Linked DNA regions of Homo sapiens: region 1 is linked to region 2. Evidence: fine-mapped QTL for protein levels in blood plasma. A gene starts in region 2. The other region holds a variant in brackets. All regions are shown on one strand. Distances are from middle to middle. Region 1 overlaps C1S (complement C1s). Region 2 holds the start of C1R (complement C1r).

What was found. A credible set is the group of variants that fine-mapping cannot tell apart. PIP is the chance, under the fine-mapping model, that this variant and not a neighbour inherited with it causes the effect. Protein levels are from antibody-based Olink assays in UK Biobank. Linkage for the fine-mapping came from a reference panel and not from the study's own genotypes, which makes the PIPs less certain.
Region 1: its variant is the best candidate, but not a certain one, in a credible set for the plasma level of the C1R protein (UK Biobank, PIP 0.64).

The regions. Positions count from the first base shown.
Region 1 is chr12:7,065,445-7,074,248 of GRCh38, reverse strand. It overlaps C1S (complement C1s), which reads right to left. Exons shown (of 12, transcript NM_001734.5): 7 at 8,279-8,432; 8 at 7,616-7,731; 9 at 7,132-7,210; 10 at 6,478-6,606; 11 at 5,719-5,793; 12 at 3,217-4,394. The coding sequence ends at 3,598. Among named protein-coding and RNA genes, the nearest start is that of C1S, 9.1 kb to the right of the region's middle. The variant C/T (reference allele first, on the strand shown) is at 5,349.
Region 2 is chr12:7,088,829-7,096,828 of GRCh38, reverse strand. It overlaps C1R (complement C1r), which reads left to right and starts at 4,384. Exons shown (of 11, transcript NM_001733.7): 1 at 4,384-4,442; 2 at 5,149-5,377; 3 at 6,581-6,773; 4 at 7,096-7,242; 5 at 7,340-7,536; 6 at 7,843-7,990. The coding sequence starts at 4,441. C1RL (complement C1r subcomponent like) reads left to right here. Exons shown (of 6, transcript NM_016546.4): 6 at 1-2,275. The coding sequence ends at 438. RefSeq lists an enhancer at 4,042-4,336.

The DNA of each region.
Region 1 (8,804 bases), 23 kb after region 2:
GAGATGAGGCAGAACACAATGGTTACAATCAGAATGAGCTCCTTCCTGGCAGCTGCAGGTCTTCTGTGTTCTTTGTAGTCCCTTATAGAGGAAGAGAGATTTTTTTTAAAACAGATGCTTCCATTCAGGAAACTAGGTCCATCAGAGACTTTCCCTGTAGGTTTTGCTCTGGGGGGGGGGGGTTCCCCCGTTGTGGTTCCTGTTACCACAACTTCATCTCCCTCAATATGTCCAGTCTCTGCTTTTCTCTGGTTCAAGGGTGGACATACCCAAAATCAATTTCCTCTTAGGACAAATGAGAGAAGCTGGATCTTTCCAATGTGTCTTTTTATGATTGTAAGAGAAAATAAAAAAGGATGTGAGTACAAAACGTAGCAAGAGGGAAATCTTGGTAGTGATGGAATTGTTTCGTATCTTGACTGCAGAGGTGCTCACATGAGTCTCCAATGTAGTAAAATAACACAAAACTGCCCTTGCACATTGTACCAACATGAGTTTCCTGGTTTAGATATTGTACTGTAGTTACCTAAGATGTAGCCATTAGGGGAAATAGCGCCTCTCTGTACTAACTTTGCAACTTCTTGTGAATATGTCAAAAGAAAAAGGGTTTTGTTAAATCATTATTTTAAAAACCATGGCAGAGTTTGTGGATCTGATCAAGATTAAATAAAGCTGTGTTGTGTCCGTGTGTGTGTGTGTGTGTGTGTGTGTGTGTGTGTGTGTGTGTGTGAGACGGAATCTCACTCTGCTGCCCAGGCTGGAATGCAGTGGTGCCATCTCGGCTCACTGCAATACCAGGTTCAAGCGATTCTCCTGCCTCAGCCTCCCGAGTAGCTGGGATTACAAGCACCTGCCACCACACCTGGCTAATTTTTGTATTTTTAGTAGAGACAAGGTTTCACTGTGTTGGTCAGGCTGCTCTCAAACTCCTGACCTCATGTGATCCATCCTCCCTGGCCTCCCAAAGTGCTGGGATTACAGGTGTGAGTCACCACGCCTCACATCATATTTTCAATTTTTAAAATAATAACCAATATGCAGGAAAAAAGTCACATTTCCACTGAATATGTTTCTGATTCTAGCAGTCACTGTAAAGGAAACTTTAGAGTCCCAGGATCCCTTCTAGCCCCTTCTGGGCTGGTCCAGTTTCAAGTAGGTTCAAGCCCTCTTGACCACCGGACATTGTCTTTCCTCCCTGGCATGAGTTGCTGACCCACCAGTCCATTTTCTTCTGACCAAAGAAAAGTGACAATTCACCTTCTTCAAAAAGCTAACTCTTTTCCTGAGTTTCAGATGAAGCGGACATATGTTCCCAAGTAACTTGCAAGGTACTACGATGGATACCCTTTAAACACAATGAATGACTTTCTAGCCCCTCTAGGACCTGATGACAAGCTCTTCCCAGCTCTGAAGTCTCTGATCATGATTCATTTAGGTCTTCTCCCTGCCATTCACCCAGAGAAATGACCTTGCAGCACAGTCAACGATGCAAAGCCCATTCCCGTCATGCCGTACAAGGTGGCAGCAAAGAGGGAAATTCTTCACCAATACCTCAGCCCATCAGCAAGGGCAGAACCCAAATAGACTGGTGATTCTCCGAGAGGGATGAACTTCCTTTTTCTGTTACTTGTCAGATTCCAGGTTAATTTTTTGCTATTGCCCCAAGTATAAAAAAAGAAGAACAATATCCCTTTCACAGACCATGTTTCTAAATCTTAATATTCCTCCAATGCCTTTTTATCTCTAGAAGAATCCTCCTCTCACGGAAACACTCTCACCCAGGGCACACTGTCAACTCCATTGCTCCTGCAATGACAGGAAGGGTGAGGAGGTGGCTATGAGGCATACAGTTCAGGAGTGACACAGTGACTTTATGCTGCTTGGTTGACCATATAATCCTCCCAGGGACTCCCTGTTGTAATTCCCTTCAATTCTTCAGGCCCTTCAATTAGAGTTCCTCTGGTTACCTCATCACGTTTACCCTGCGGTCTAAGGTCAACTGTTGAATTTAGCCCTCTTGGTCTATGGAATATCAAAGTCCATTCTTGATGGGCCCAAACCAACCTTTTTTGGCTTCTAGTAAAAACTGCCCTCCTGAAAGCCACGTGTCACATCAAATAGGTCAGATTCCCCCTCAGCTCTTCCTCTCAGACCTCCGCTTTCCTAAGACGCCCTGTTAGGGCAACCGCTGTCCTAAGATAGTTGTCCTGTCCTCAGTTTTTAAAATGCTAAGTCTCTATTCTGTAGTCATTTCTCATCACTAATCATTCTTTTGGAAGAGGAATCTTTTCTTTTCCTTCCCCTAGAAAATAGAAGGGAGAGTTTTGGGGTCCATCCTTACCGAGATTTTCTGCTATGTCATCTTGGTACAGAGTTCAGTCTAATGAAAACATTGTCACAAATTGATTAAAACCACCAGGAAAGCAGACAAGAGCATGCTCAATTTCTTTAGTTTTTCTTTTTTGTTGTCATAATATTGCATGATACAATGAGTATTAGAGGAAAATTAACTTTCCGTTCACATATTGAAACAATTTCTACTTAAAGAAGATCTTAAACAGCCAACTCAAACTATTGTACATGGATTTCTGAATGAGGTGGGGTTTTTTTATTTTGCTTTGTTCCAGATAATGTCTCACTCTGGTTGCCCAGGCTGGAGTACAGTGGCATGATCACTGCAACCTTGACCTCCTGGGCTCAAGCGATCCTCCCAACTCAGCCTCCTGAGTAGCTGGGACTAAGGCACGCACCATCATGCCTAGCTAATTTTTATTTTTTATTTTTGTAGAGACAGGGTCTCCCTATGTTGCTCACACTGGTCTTGAATCCCTGGGCTCAAGCAATCCTCCCACCCCTGCCTCCCAAAGTGTTGGGATCACAGGTGTGAGCCACGCACCACATGACATTTAATGAGCTTCTTTTTTTTCTTATTTTTCTTTTCTTCTTTTTTTTTTTTTTTTTTTTTTGGCCAGGTAAATATTAATGAGTTTCAAAAGCAGAATGTGATGCCTTACACTGGCGATCTTCATACTAACCCACAATATTCAGTAAATCTCATTTGGAAGAGAGAAGAAAAGCTGAATTCCCTGTTTTCGTGACAATTAAATTAAATATTAGTTGCTGGATGCCCAATTTCAGTGACATAACAGCCTTCTCATCCCATTCCCCTTCTATAATTCTGAGGGTTTGGTGTGGAATGAGGTAAGTCACACAAAATTTGCTTATAAACATCCTTTATTGTACATAGACAGTGGATACTGAGAATGATCAAGTAAATGGAATTTTGAACAGGTAAAGAGGAAACAAAGAATTAAGGTATCCCTGTGGAATAGTGCAAGAAAGGAGTGCCCCACCCATAGTGTTATCTACAATAGGTACTCCGGGGAAAGGACCCCAAGGAGTCAGACCACAAATGTATGACCAGCACAATTCTATGATCAAACTCTACCTCTAGCAAGGCGTCTCAACAATCAAGTTCTATTTAAATCATTCGCTCGTGTCTTCTTTCAGTCATGATGAAATAATGAGAATATCATAAGGAACAGAAGGTAATGCATTGGTCACCACCCTTGGAGAGGCTGGTGGGATGTATCTGGATTAGTCCTCACGGGGGGTGCTATTTTCCTGCATAGTCTTCATTATCCAGTCAACATAGTTCTTTACCCGTGTGTAGAGCCCATAGGTCCCACACTGGGGCCCCCAGGACACCAGGCCAGCTGCGTAGAATTTGGTCTTGTCATTGGGATCCTGTACAGCAAAGGCCCCACCACTGTCCCCTTTACAGCTATCCATGCCCTTCTCTCCTCCAGCACAGATCATGTTAGGAGTGAAAACATAGGCCTCTGCATCTGCTGTGGGTTTCTCCACTTTCACTTCTTTGCATTTTCTTAAAGGAGCTACAGGTAACCTTGCCGCCTTGAGGCGAACAGCACGATCTCTCTTCTCTGTTCGGCCCCAGCCTGAGATCAGTCCCAGGTCCCCATCCATGAGGTTGTAGTCGGAAGAGGTGCCTGGTAGGCAGATGGGAGAGACGGTGGGTCCCATTTTCACTGGGTCTTTCAGCCGCACCAGTGCAATGTCATTATCAAAATTGGTTCGTCCTTCTGGGACTTCCAGCAGCTTCCATCCCGGATGAATAAACACATGCTCAGGAGTGAGCATCTTGGATTTTGCCAGCCGTGAGGTCTGCACTGAGGTGGACCCAACATACATTGTTGGCTCCCTGTTTCCCTCCACAACATGAGCAGCCGTCAGCACCCAGTACTCATTAATGAGCGCTCCACCAGCCCATGGGTTGTCAAAGAAGACTTGCCAGGGGAAGTTTTTAATATCTGCATCGGATCCTCCAATTATCCTCTGTTTTTCTTCAAAGGGTTCTCTGGGGACTCCACAGACTAGGAAGGAATAAAACAACACAGGGAAGGAGGAAGAAATGATGCTGGCTTCCTGCAAATCCTCCAACCACTCACATAATGTTACCTGCTAGGTTGCAGGATTCTCTAGTACAAAATAGTCAACCCTATTTGGTCAACAATCTCAATACCTGACCCACTCTGGCCTTACCTAAACATCCCGCTTTGCCGATGTCATAAGCTGGCTCATGGGAGAGCTCAGTTAAACGGAGGCAGTGTGTGAATCACTGAGTCCAGATGCACTAATGCCTCACACTATCCACAGTGCGACCCACAGCCCCCCTGGAGGCAGGGGTCCCCTTTGCACCTCCCAACTCGGCACATGAGGCCGGTGCCCAATCAAGAGCCAGTGCTGGAAACCCTTTTCTCACACAGATGGTGGAGGAGGAAAGATTTCTGCCTTCTTCAGATGCCCAGATCAAACTTTAATCACCTTCTTTACTGGAGTCCTAGTTGCACCTGAGTCCCTCCTAGTAAACCACAGGTCAGCCTAGGAAGTAGAGAGGGGTCCCTTCTTTGGCCCTGACCTCTCACTCCCAGTGACTGGTGCCATTACCATTCAGTTATACTAATAACTGAATTCAAGTGAAGCTGCTTACTTAAATCCCTTACTAGACAGCCTGGAGGGACTCCAAGTTGAGCACAATGGGCTGTGAACTTAGACAGACCTGGGCTCAAAGCCTGCCTTTGCCACTTGCTAACTCTGTGAACTTGCACCCCACCCATTCACATTTGACATTGGTCAGATAAGACCAATGACACCTAGCTCACAGGGCTGTTATACGGACACGAATGAGATAATAAATGCAACAAATCAGCTCAGTCTTCAGCTTTCAGTACCACCCAGGATGGTTATTATCCTATTGGATTTGCCTCAGCCTTCTGCTACCCAACTCTTATCTTCCTCATTCTTTGAATTCCTCTATATCTTGCTGC[C/T]CTATAAACTTTTAATATAATAACTAGGCTATTTAGCTAGACTTGTTTCTGAGTGTTGATTACTCACACACTCTCAGCTTTCAGGCCCTGTTTTTAGCAGTTCTGTATCTTCTCACTGCAGCTACATTACCAGACACCAACTGTCGCTGGCTGACGTTTCTATTTCCTTCCAGTTGGCCTGGCTTCAGTGCGGCTGAGGAGGTTCCCCACGGCCCTGGCAGCCCACGGCACAGTGATACTGCCACCTCACTGAGCTGGACTCTGGCAGGTCACTGTTCAGTCCTTTCCCAAGAGGATTACAGTTGCTTTCAGAAGGTGACTCCCAGTCACCCATGGCTATCATCTCTCCCCAAGCCTCAGCCCTCCTTACCTGGAACACATTTCGGCAGCTCCGGGCCCAGCACCTCATTCACCCAGCTCCCGTTACCAGCACAGTGATACTCCCCTGGAATAGCACAGAGAACACAGGCCACACTCACCACCACATCTTCCTTCTTCCATTCCCCCCTCCGACCCCAACACCCTGCCCCGTTCCTTCAGAACCTCAGCTCGTCTAGGATTCAAGTAGTAAATCAGATTAAATCAGCCAGAAAAAAAATATCTTCCTCCAAACAATCCCTCAGGCCTCTAGCCTGCCAGGGAGACAAAGGGAACATCTCCAAAGCAGAAGGAAAGAAGGCATCGGGAAAGTGGCGAAATAAATACAGAGCAATGCAGAGAACGTATTAGGGTCTCATTCAGCCCTGCACCTAGCATGACCAAAGCCTCTACATCAAGAAAGCCAGTCAGTGTAGTTTGGTGGCTTAAAGCTGAAGGCATTGCTCCTGTGGGTTTTACATGAAATAACTGGTCAAAAGGTGGGTAATCCCATGAAATGGATGTTGTAGGGGAATTCCTGCTGCAGCTGTGAACTCAGTTGGTGACCTCTATGATTCCCTGAGGCTGATGCTCCCCTGAACTTGCCCTGCTCCAGATGAAAACTGTATCTTTGGACGAAGCCAAGGGGATGAACAATGTCTGTCCTATCGCCTTCATTTGTCTCCAAACTCTGTCTCTGGCACAGATTATGCTATCCACCCTCCAACACCTTCTCACTCTCTCTCTCTCTTCTCCAGTAGAAGAAACCTACCACCTCCTCCATTTTCCATGTAGTAATATGGCTCCTCACAAGTGTAGCGGATGACAGAACCAAACAAAGTGCTCTCTGGGTCTTCAACTTTACCATTCTCAATGGATTCAGGAATGCCACAGTCCACAGCTACCAGACGAAGGAAGGAGAGCGATGGTCAGGACAGCCACTTCCTCCAAGGAAGAGTCATGGGGCCAGGTTCATCCTCACTGCTTCCCCACCCCATATCCACAGGCACACCTGGGATGAACCTCCCCACACCAGCCTCTCTGTGGCCATCCTCCCCAACTGGCATCTCTCAGCTCTCTCACCCGCTGAGATGCCAATTCAGATGGCCCCATGAAAGCCGTAGTGAAGAGCCTGGTTCTCAGTGGTTGGTGAAGGCCCAGTGGAAGCCACAAATGCACCCACGTGGGGCTACTAACTCGACCTATCCCATAGCCCCTTTCTTGGAAAGAAACATGCCGATCTAGTTGGCCTGGGACCAGATGCGGGGCTGGGACTAGAAAAGCTTCCATGACTGGCTTCCCTTCAAAAACCCAACCCACTCCCTCACATGCCTAAGAGGAAACCATGCATTTGAATTTTGATGTGCTGATCTTTCCATTCTCTCTGAGAGAAAAAGAAAGACTTCCACTTTGAAGAGACACATACGTTGACATTTCAGTTTGGAATTACTCCACTTTCCATTGCTTTGACAAGTCGAATAGAAAGATGTTGCACCAACACGTCCCTGGAGAATAATAAACATCACCACTTATTTCTGAAGAGAGATATGGGAAACCAAAATCAAAACTGGAATTGATCTCTGGCCTTGGATCAATGAGGAGTCCTCACCACAAGAAGCTTGGGAACATCTTAGCAGACCTAAAGCACCCAGGAGATGAGGCTGACAGAAAGCTTTGCCCCAACGTGTCAACTCCCCTTCCTCAAGAAGACTGAAGGCAGAGAGAATGCCAAGCTGGCCAGGCAGCTCCATGACTCACAAGGGAGAACTACAGATCTTAAGCTGTTGTGTTTATGGGAAAGGTGTTATACCTTGATCACACACATACATTGGGTAAACAACTGGACAATTTCAGTCCGCTCATCCTGATCTGGGGCCAGGGACTGGGGAGAAGCCAAGGTGGTACTTTACCTCCACAACTTCAAACCCATCCAGACAGGTTATCTGCACCACATCTCTAAAGACATATTTTGCCTTCGCAGGCTCCCAAACAGAATTGGGAGTGTCTTCCTTAGGGCAGGGCATTGCTTGAAAGAACAGAAGTTGGGACAGGAGGAAAAAATTACTAAATAGTTGAAGACTCTCATTCTATTTACATCATTCTCACACTTTCTAAAATCGTCCAGTTGTCCTCAATCCTGATGCTTAACATTCCAATACAGCAGATGTCTAAAATCATATGGCATTACCAACTAACCACCCGCAAGCTGTCTGCAGTCTCAGGTCTAGTTAAAGGATTACTAGAGGTTGAGGCATTTCTAGCAACCGTTGACTGGTTTAGATTTTCCTGAAGAAGTGAAGTATCTCAGGATTCTATCAGAACAACAATCTATCTGTTTTTTAAATTATTGTTGCTTTGTTTTTGTTTTGTTTTAGAGACAAGGTTTTGCTCTGTTGCCCAGAGTGGACTCAAACTCCTACTTCCTGGGCTCAAGGGATCCTCCTGCCTCAGCCTCCCTCGGTAGCTGAGATCACAGGTGCTTCCAGTGTGCCTGGATCATCTACCTGCTTTGATCCCACATTGTTTGGGGACTTTGGTATCACCAACCAAAGAGGCACTTCTAAGTTACTCACGATCTCCATGATAGCGAAGTTTCCAGCCCTTTTTTTGCCCTGTTAGATCAGTTTGGAAGATGATATCAAGAGCATTACTCTTGGTTTCAATATTTAGAGGCCCAGGGAATCCATGACCACAGTAAGGACCAAATTGCCGATCTCCTGCAACAAACTGAACAAAATGATGAAATCAGAAGAGGGAAAGAACTAAAGGGAAGAGGTAAAATTGGGAAGTGGGAGATACAAATAAAAGAGGCATTAAATGTCACATAAAATAAGAAGAAAATAAGGGTCAGGAGAAAAGATAATTTTATCTTCAGGCTGAGTGCAGTGGCTCACACCTATAATCCCAGCACTTTGGGAGGCCGAGGTGGGAGCATTGCTTGAGGCTAGGAGTTTCAGGCTATCCTGAGCAACATAGCAAAACCCCATCTCTGTAAAAAAAAAAAGAATAACAATAAAAATATTAGCTGGGTTTGATGACACACGTCTGTGGGCCCAGCTACTCAGGAGGCTGAGGTGGGACGCTTGCTTGAGCCCAAGA
Region 2 (8,000 bases):
CTGGAGCTGCAGCACAGCATCCCCCTGGGCCCCAACGTCCTCCCGGTCTGTCTGCCCGATAATGAGACCCTCTACCGCAGCGGCTTGTTGGGCTACGTCAGTGGGTTTGGCATGGAGATGGGCTGGCTAACTACTGAGCTGAAGTACTCGAGGCTGCCTGTAGCTCCCAGGGAGGCCTGCAACGCCTGGCTCCAAAAGAGACAGAGACCCGAGGTGTTTTCTGACAATATGTTCTGTGTTGGGGATGAGACGCAAAGGCACAGTGTCTGCCAGGGGGACAGTGGCAGCGTCTATGTGGTATGGGACAATCATGCCCATCACTGGGTGGCCACGGGCATTGTGTCCTGGGGCATAGGGTGTGGCGAAGGGTATGACTTCTACACCAAGGTGCTCAGCTATGTGGACTGGATCAAGGGAGTGATGAATGGCAAGAATTGACCCTGGGGGCTTGAACAGGGACTGACCAGCACAGTGGAGGCCCCAGGCAACAGAGGGCCTGGAGTGAGGACTGAACACTGGGGTAGGGGTTGGGGGTGGGGGGTTGGGGGAGGCAGGGAAATCCTATTCACATCACTGTTGCACCAAGCCACTGCAAGAGAAACCCCCACCCGGCAAGCCCGCCCCATCCCAGACAGGAAGCAGAGTCCCACAGACCGCTCCTCCTCACCCTCTACCTCCCTGTGCTCATGCACTAGGCCCCGGGAAGCCTGTACATCTCAACAACTTTCGCCTTGAATGTCCTTAGAACCGCCTTCCCCTACTTCATCTGTTGACACAGCTTTTATACTCACCTGTGGAAGAGTCAGCTACTCACCCGCTATTAGAGTATGGAGGAAGGGGTTTTCATTGCATTGCATTTCTGAAACATTCCTAAGACCCTTTAGTTGACCTTCAAATATTCAAGCTATTCTGCAGCTCCAAGATGCAATTATAGAAACAGCTCCTTTTTTATTTTATGTCCTCTATATGCCAGGTGCTTCACCTGTTATTTCACTTAATCCTCATACCATATTTGCAAAGGATGTGTTATTATCTATGTGTGACAAATGAGGAAACTGAGGCTCAGGGGATAAAGGGACTTGCCCAAGTCCCACAGCTGGTGTGTGACTGCAGAGACTGTGCTCTTCCCAGTGTGCTGCAATACTTCTCAACCCTCCTCTAACCTGCTGTGTCACCCGCTTTCCCTCCCAGCCCCCACATCCTTACCATTTTCCCTCCCTGGGAATTCCTGCTTCTGCGAAAATGGTATCCTCTAGCTCACACTTTCCTAATGGCCCCATCTCCTGCAGAAGCCAGGTGAGCCCAGCACTGGACTGAAGTTCTTGCAGACACCCCACCTGTGCCCCTATCATCAGGGGAACTGCTCCACCTGAGAGGACCAACTCTTTAATTTTTAGTAAAACCTGGAGGTGATGGGCCGGGCGCAGTGGCTCACGCCTGTAATCCCAACACCTTAGGAGTCCGAGGTGGGTGGATCACGAGGTCAGGAGATCCAGCCCATCCTGGCCAACATGGTGAAACCCCATCTCTACTAAAAATACAAAAATTAGCCGGGCGTGGTGACACGTGCCTGTAGTCCCAGCTACTCGGGAGGCTGAGGCAGGAGAATCACTTGAACCTGGGAGGCGGAGGTTGCAGTGAGCTAAGATCACGCCACTGCACTCCAGCCTGCGGACAGACCAAGACTTCATCCCCCCCAAAAAAAAAAGATTGGAGGTGATTTACAGTGAAAGACACAAATAAAATACAACTGTTCAATGGAAATAGAAAATAAACACCATAAAAGAGAGAAGAGAGGTAATTTGTTAGCATCAAGAGTCAAGTTGCTATATGGTCAAAGGTTAAATTTATCTCTAAAAAATGGCAGGATTCAAAGTTGTACATACATGTGATTACTTCTGTTTTTTACACCCACATACAGTACAAAAGATTATTAAAAATATTCCCAAAAGGCAGGTGCAATGATGCACACTTATACCCCCAGCCACTCAGGAGGCTGATGCAAGAGGATCGCTTGAGCCCAGGAGTTGAAGTCCAGCCTAAGCAACATAGTGAAACCCCATCGCCAAAAATATAATAATAATTCTCTCAAAATACTAAACAGAGGTGGTTTTATTGATAAGATTTTGGCTGTTTGGTTTTCCACTATTCTCTATTGGCTAAAATTTGTTTAATGAGCATGAAATGTTTTTATTTTATTTTGCTTATTTTTATGATTGCAAAAAATGATATGAGTTTCTCCCTGCCAAGGCAAAAAAATATATATATACCTATATTTATATGTGTATGTCTAGATCTATATCTCTACATCTCCATCGCTGTCTCTGTCTAGAGATAGAGATATCGACAATGAGAGAGAGAGGGAGGTAAGAGATAGAGATGATGGAGATAGATGAGCTAGCGATAGAGACATATCCACAGAGGAAAACCTACCACTACTTTAAGAGAGAAATCTTTTTCCCAAGAATCAAATCCTTAAAGGAACAAACACTGTAACCGACTATATCCTCAATAATTGTTTTAAAACAAACGCAGCAGCATTTCATATGGCATTTTTTTCCTTCTTGGTATGAGTCAAGGACAAAACAAAGTCAAGGACATAACAAAAATGTGTGAGTAAAGGTTATTTTGAATGGTTGGGCAGAGTGGAGACAGGGCTGGGACTGAGCTAATGACATCCAGGTTTGCCGCTCTCCAAGCGTGTTGCACAATGCCAACGCAGAACTGAGAATCCCTAGGATGGACGGAAGAGCTTCAGCTAAGACTTACCTCCTTACCTGTTCCCTCTGCCTCCATTATGAACATACGGCACATGCGCGCGTGCACACACACACACACACACAAACTGCTGCTAGGATATTAATGTGCAGTTTGTTAGACGAGATTCCCCTTCCTTCTCGTCCTCTGATCTGGTGCTTTTCCTTCTCCCCCATCTTTTGTCTTTCCTGATCTAACAAGGCTGTGGATCATATGCTGATCCCATCACAGACCAGCCCTCCGTTAGGTTCAGTCCTCAGCTCTGACACACAGGCCTGCTGGAGAAACCCTCCAAGCGTTGGTGGATCTTGCACCTTCTGTGTGCCTGCTGTCTAACTACTGATGATGTGGTCACTGCCTGATGGGGAACTGCATCAGCTCTGTGAATTCTTGCAATCTATTGCCTGGGAAAGTGTCTTGCACATTAAACAGGTAGCCCATAAATGGATGAACGGGGGTGGGGGCAGAAGGGTGGAGGTTGGAGGGATTCATCTAATAAGGGAAACAAGCAGAACAGCCTACAAAGGCTTAAGAACGCAGAGTCCTGCTCTGCAGCCCAAGCCCCTCCGTGGGATGAAGTGCCATCAGATATTTGGTGCCATGGAGAGTTGATGAAGAAAGCCTTCCAAAAACAATGAAATTGTTTTTTAATTTATTTTAACTTTTAGAGACGAGATCTCACTATGTTGCCCAGGCTGGTTTCGAACTCCTGGGCTCAAGAGATCTTCCCACCCTGGCCTCGAAAAGTGCTGGCATCACAGGCATGAGCCACCACACGTGGCCAAGAGCAAAAGTTTTAAAGCAGGACACTATGGCCTGATGGACAGGAGAGACTAGGGTCCCTCCTCCCTCCCAGGGGCCTGGCTTCATCTCAGAAAAACCGAGTCCCTCTTGCTCCACACCCGCATCCTTAGCTTCAGCCCTGGCAGTTGTGTTGAGCAGATGCTAAGGAGATGGGGACATTTTACCCCCTCCGCAGCCGCCCCAGAGGGTCTCAAACCCAGGGCTGATTTAGGGTTGCCCTGACATGGCCAACCCTATTCTATGTCCAAGTGTCATTCATGGCTAAAGCAGGCCAGGGCCCCAAGGCAACCAAGCTCCTCTCTCCTCTGCCCGCTCCCACACACCCTCCTCTGCCCCAGTGTTCCTATCATTACGTCCTGGGCATTGAAACCCGGGCCATTCTTGGACCAGGGCTGTGGGCTGAATGAGGGCAGGAAGAACAGGGTCAATGGGAAAGGACAGCCCAGAAAAGAGAATTCACCACCACCTGTGGTCTCCCACTGCTTTGGTAGGAACCTTGTAAACACAGCAGCAGCCCCCAGGAAAGTCTTGGAAGAAGGGAGAAGCTGATCAGATTTAGAGACTGAGACATCTGGGCCTCCAACCCAAGGCTCCCCGGGCCCTAAAAAGCCAGACTCCCGTCTCCTTAGCCCTTTCCCTCACCGACCAGCAGGTGGCACCACAAACAGGGATTTCAAAACCAAAACTAAATTAAAGTGGAAACTCAGATCTTTTGTTTATGCAAATAGTTCATTCCCTCCAACATTCCTCCGGGAATGGTCCCCCCTCCACTCCACAGAAAACCCTCCCCTCCCTGCTGTGCATGACGCGGGCTCCCTCTGCACACAGTGCACGAAGACGCTGTCGGGAGAGCCCAGGATTCAACACGGGCCTTGAGAAATGTGAGTAAGGGTGATGGGCAACCAGGTGGGAGGGAGAAGCCAGGGGAGAAGCCAGGGCATGGGAGGCAATTCAGGGAGACAGGAACACCCTTCTCTCTTCACACACCTCATCAGTTCCACTGTGCACACGCGTGGACACACACAACACACGCCCCATCCCTCCTCCTAGGGATCAGAGGAGACTTCATACATAGATGCTCATGCCATGGTCCTTTCTTCCCTCTGGGCTCTTGGCAGGGAGCAGCGAGAGGAGGGGACCCCTTGCCCAGGACGGGACACTCTGTGCCTGTGTCCCCCACTCCACAGATGGTTTCTCCCAGACGCTCTTGCTGAACCTGTGGGAGCCCTTTCAGAGACCCACGGGTGGAAACCCTCACCCTCCATTAACTGGTCCCAAGCCAGTCCTATTCCTGGAAGGGGAGGGGAGGGACGCGTCCGGGCAGGGGAGGAGGCTGGAAAGGGAGTGTGAGGGGAGTGTGGTGGCCTCTGGACTGGACACTGCCCTGGAGAGTGACCCGATGCAGCAGCTGCACAGGCCATCCTCCCCACCCACGCACCCCTGCTGAGAACATGTCTGTGAGGTTCAGGGTGGGCAGAGAGGAGAATGCCCAGTGGTATGGCCGTCTCATCCCCTGCCACAGCCACTGCCCACATGGCAAGAGTGCTGAACCCCTCCAGCTCCAGATACTCTCTTTTGTTTTGGCAGGTGGCTCTTGTACCTCCTGGTGCCGGCCCTGTTCTGCAGGGCAGGAGGCTCCATTCCCATCCCTCAGAAGTTATTTGGGGAGGTGACTTCCCCTCTGTTCCCCAAGCCTTACCCCAACAACTTTGAAACAACCACTGTGATCACAGTCCCCACGGGATACAGGGTGAAGCTCGTCTTCCAGCAGTTTGACCTGGAGCCTTCTGAAGGCTGCTTCTATGATTATGTCAAGGTAGGGGCAGGATGGGCGGGCAGAGGGGAGACAAAACTGGGCCCTCTGGGATCTGGGATCTGTATGGCATGCACACCCCCAGACACAGCCCAGCCCCACAAGAGCTGATGGCCAACGGCCTCTCTGAGAGCCCGGGGATGCCCTGGATGGGCGCTCACTGGTGTAGAGGCCCTCGGTGAGCACTGAGGGGAGAAGCACAGAGAAGGAAGGGGACAGGACCCACTCAGGAAATTCAACATCCACTGAGTCAGGAAAACCTTCCCCATCTGCTGTCTAGCTGAGAGTCTTTGGGAAACCACTGTGCCTCAGCTTCCCTGTCTCCAAGGAAATGATTGACATGGCTGCCTGCTTCAACAGGAACACAGGGACATGAGGAGGAGAAATGTGGGCTCTGGCAGCACAGGAATAGCCTTCAGCAAGGACAGTGTGCTCAGAACCCTCACCTCTGTGGCAACCAAGGGTACCTTCCCAGGCCTGTCTTTCTCTATCCAGTAAAAATGAGATTCAGGGCTCAAGCAGAGCCTGCGAAGGTCCAACAACTACCATTCCCAGGAGACCCCTGGAGATTATGCGTGAATTACATGACAATGGCACGTCTTACCGGCTCAGAAGACTTGGCGAGTGTGCAGTGTTGGGGGAGGGCGTTTGCTGGCAGAGTCAAGGAGAGGTTGAGGAGGCTGTGAGGAGGAAGGAAGAGGGACGAGGCAGTGCCTGCTGACACTGAGATGGGTGGGCTTCAGGGCTCATGTTCCGCCGAGGGCATCAGGAGGCACTCGAGGTGTGAATGGTTTGATTAGGCTGAGGTGGAATCTGAAGACAGAAAATAAAGCGGAGCTGTCTGAGCTCTGGGAATGAGGGGCAGGTAAAGGCTGGGTACAGACAACCAGGACCCCAGGGGAACAGGCCATAGGAGGTGGTGGGGATGGAGAAGGACCTGAAACCTGCCAGAGGAGCAGAAAACAGGGAAAGGGTGAGGTACCCAGTCCAGGACAACACGCAAAGAGTGAGTCAGTGGGAGACTCAGGGAACAGCTGAAAGTCACATGGGGAAGTTTGCAGCAGCTGAGCCCAGCAGGTAGTGACCAGCCAGAGCCATTGTGGTGCATGATGCACTCTGGGCGAGACAAGGAGGACCATCACTGAGCCACCACGTGCGCCACTCCGCAACAGATCTTCTTCCTACCCCCTGTCCTTCTTCCACCAGATCTCTGCTGATAAGAAAAGCCTGGGGAGGTTCTGTGGGCAACTGGGTTCTCCACTGGGCAACCCCCCGGGAAAGAAGGAATTTATGTCCCAAGGGAACAAGATGCTGCTGACCTTCCACACAGACTTCTCCAACGAGGAGAATGGGACCATCATGTTCTACAAGGGCTTCCTGGCCTACTACCAAGCTGTGGGTGAGTAGCCCCCCAGGGATCCCTTTTCTCTGACCTCAGCCATATTGAATGGGGGGCCAAGAAAGGGAATCTTGAATGCAAAGAAGCCGAAAGCCTGGCTTTCCTTGTTCCTCCCCTCGAGAGAGCTTTTCCTAACGAGGCCTGTCAACCTGGGCTCTGTCCCCATGGAGCAGTCCCCAGAGAGCATTGGAGAGGCCTGGAGGTCCAGGTGGCCTAAAGATGCCTTTGTCTTTAGGTCTCTGGTGAGTGACCTCCCTAAGATCAGAGCCACTACTCAGGTCTCCCAGCAGAAGCTTAACCCTCCTTCCTGAATGCCTTCCAGACCTTGATGAATGTGCTTCCCGGAGCAAATCAGGGGAGGAGGATCCCCAGCCCCAGTGCCAGCACCTGTGTCACAACTACGTTGGAGGCTACTTCTGTTCCTGCCGTCCAGGCTATGAGCTTCAGGAAGACAGGCATTCCTGCCAGGGTGAGCCAGAGTGGTGTAGCAGAGGGGAAGGGGTTGAGCCAGGGCTTGCTGGGCCAGCTGGAGTCCCCCGTAATGCCCTGTGGCTCTGCTCTCACAGCTGAGTGCAGCAGCGAGCTGTACACGGAGGCATCAGGCTACATCTCCAGCCTGGAGTACCCTCGGTCCTACCCCCCTGACCTGCGCTGCAACTACAGCATCCGGGTGGAGCGGGGCCTCACCCTGCACCTCAAGTTCCTGGAGCCTTTTGATATTGATGACCACCAGCAAGTACACTGCCCCTATGACCAGCTACAGGTACAGCCGTCCTACCCCTGAAAGACCCCTTCCTCCCCTTCTGTCTGCACTTGGCTCCTCTTGTCCCAACTTCCTCCTGGATCCCCTGGCCAGCTGGGGCAGGAACGGCCAACATCACCCATGGGCTGGGTAAGTTCCCACACAACTAGAATTGGGTCATGGGGATCCCTTTTCACCTTCCCCTGAAAACACACATAAGGCAGGATTTCATCACCACCACCACCACCCTGGCCACCAGGCTACTACCCAGTTGGCCCTGTGTAAAAACGTCCAAGCTGAAAAAAAAAAACCCTCCTCCCCTACTAGATCTATGCCAACGGGAAGAACATTGGCGAGTTCTGTGGGAAGCAAAGGCCCCCCGACCTCGACACCAGCAGCAATGCTGTGGATCTGCTGTTCTTCACAGATGAGTCGGGGGACAGCCGGGGCTGGAAGCTGCGCTACACCACCGAGAGTAAGGCTCC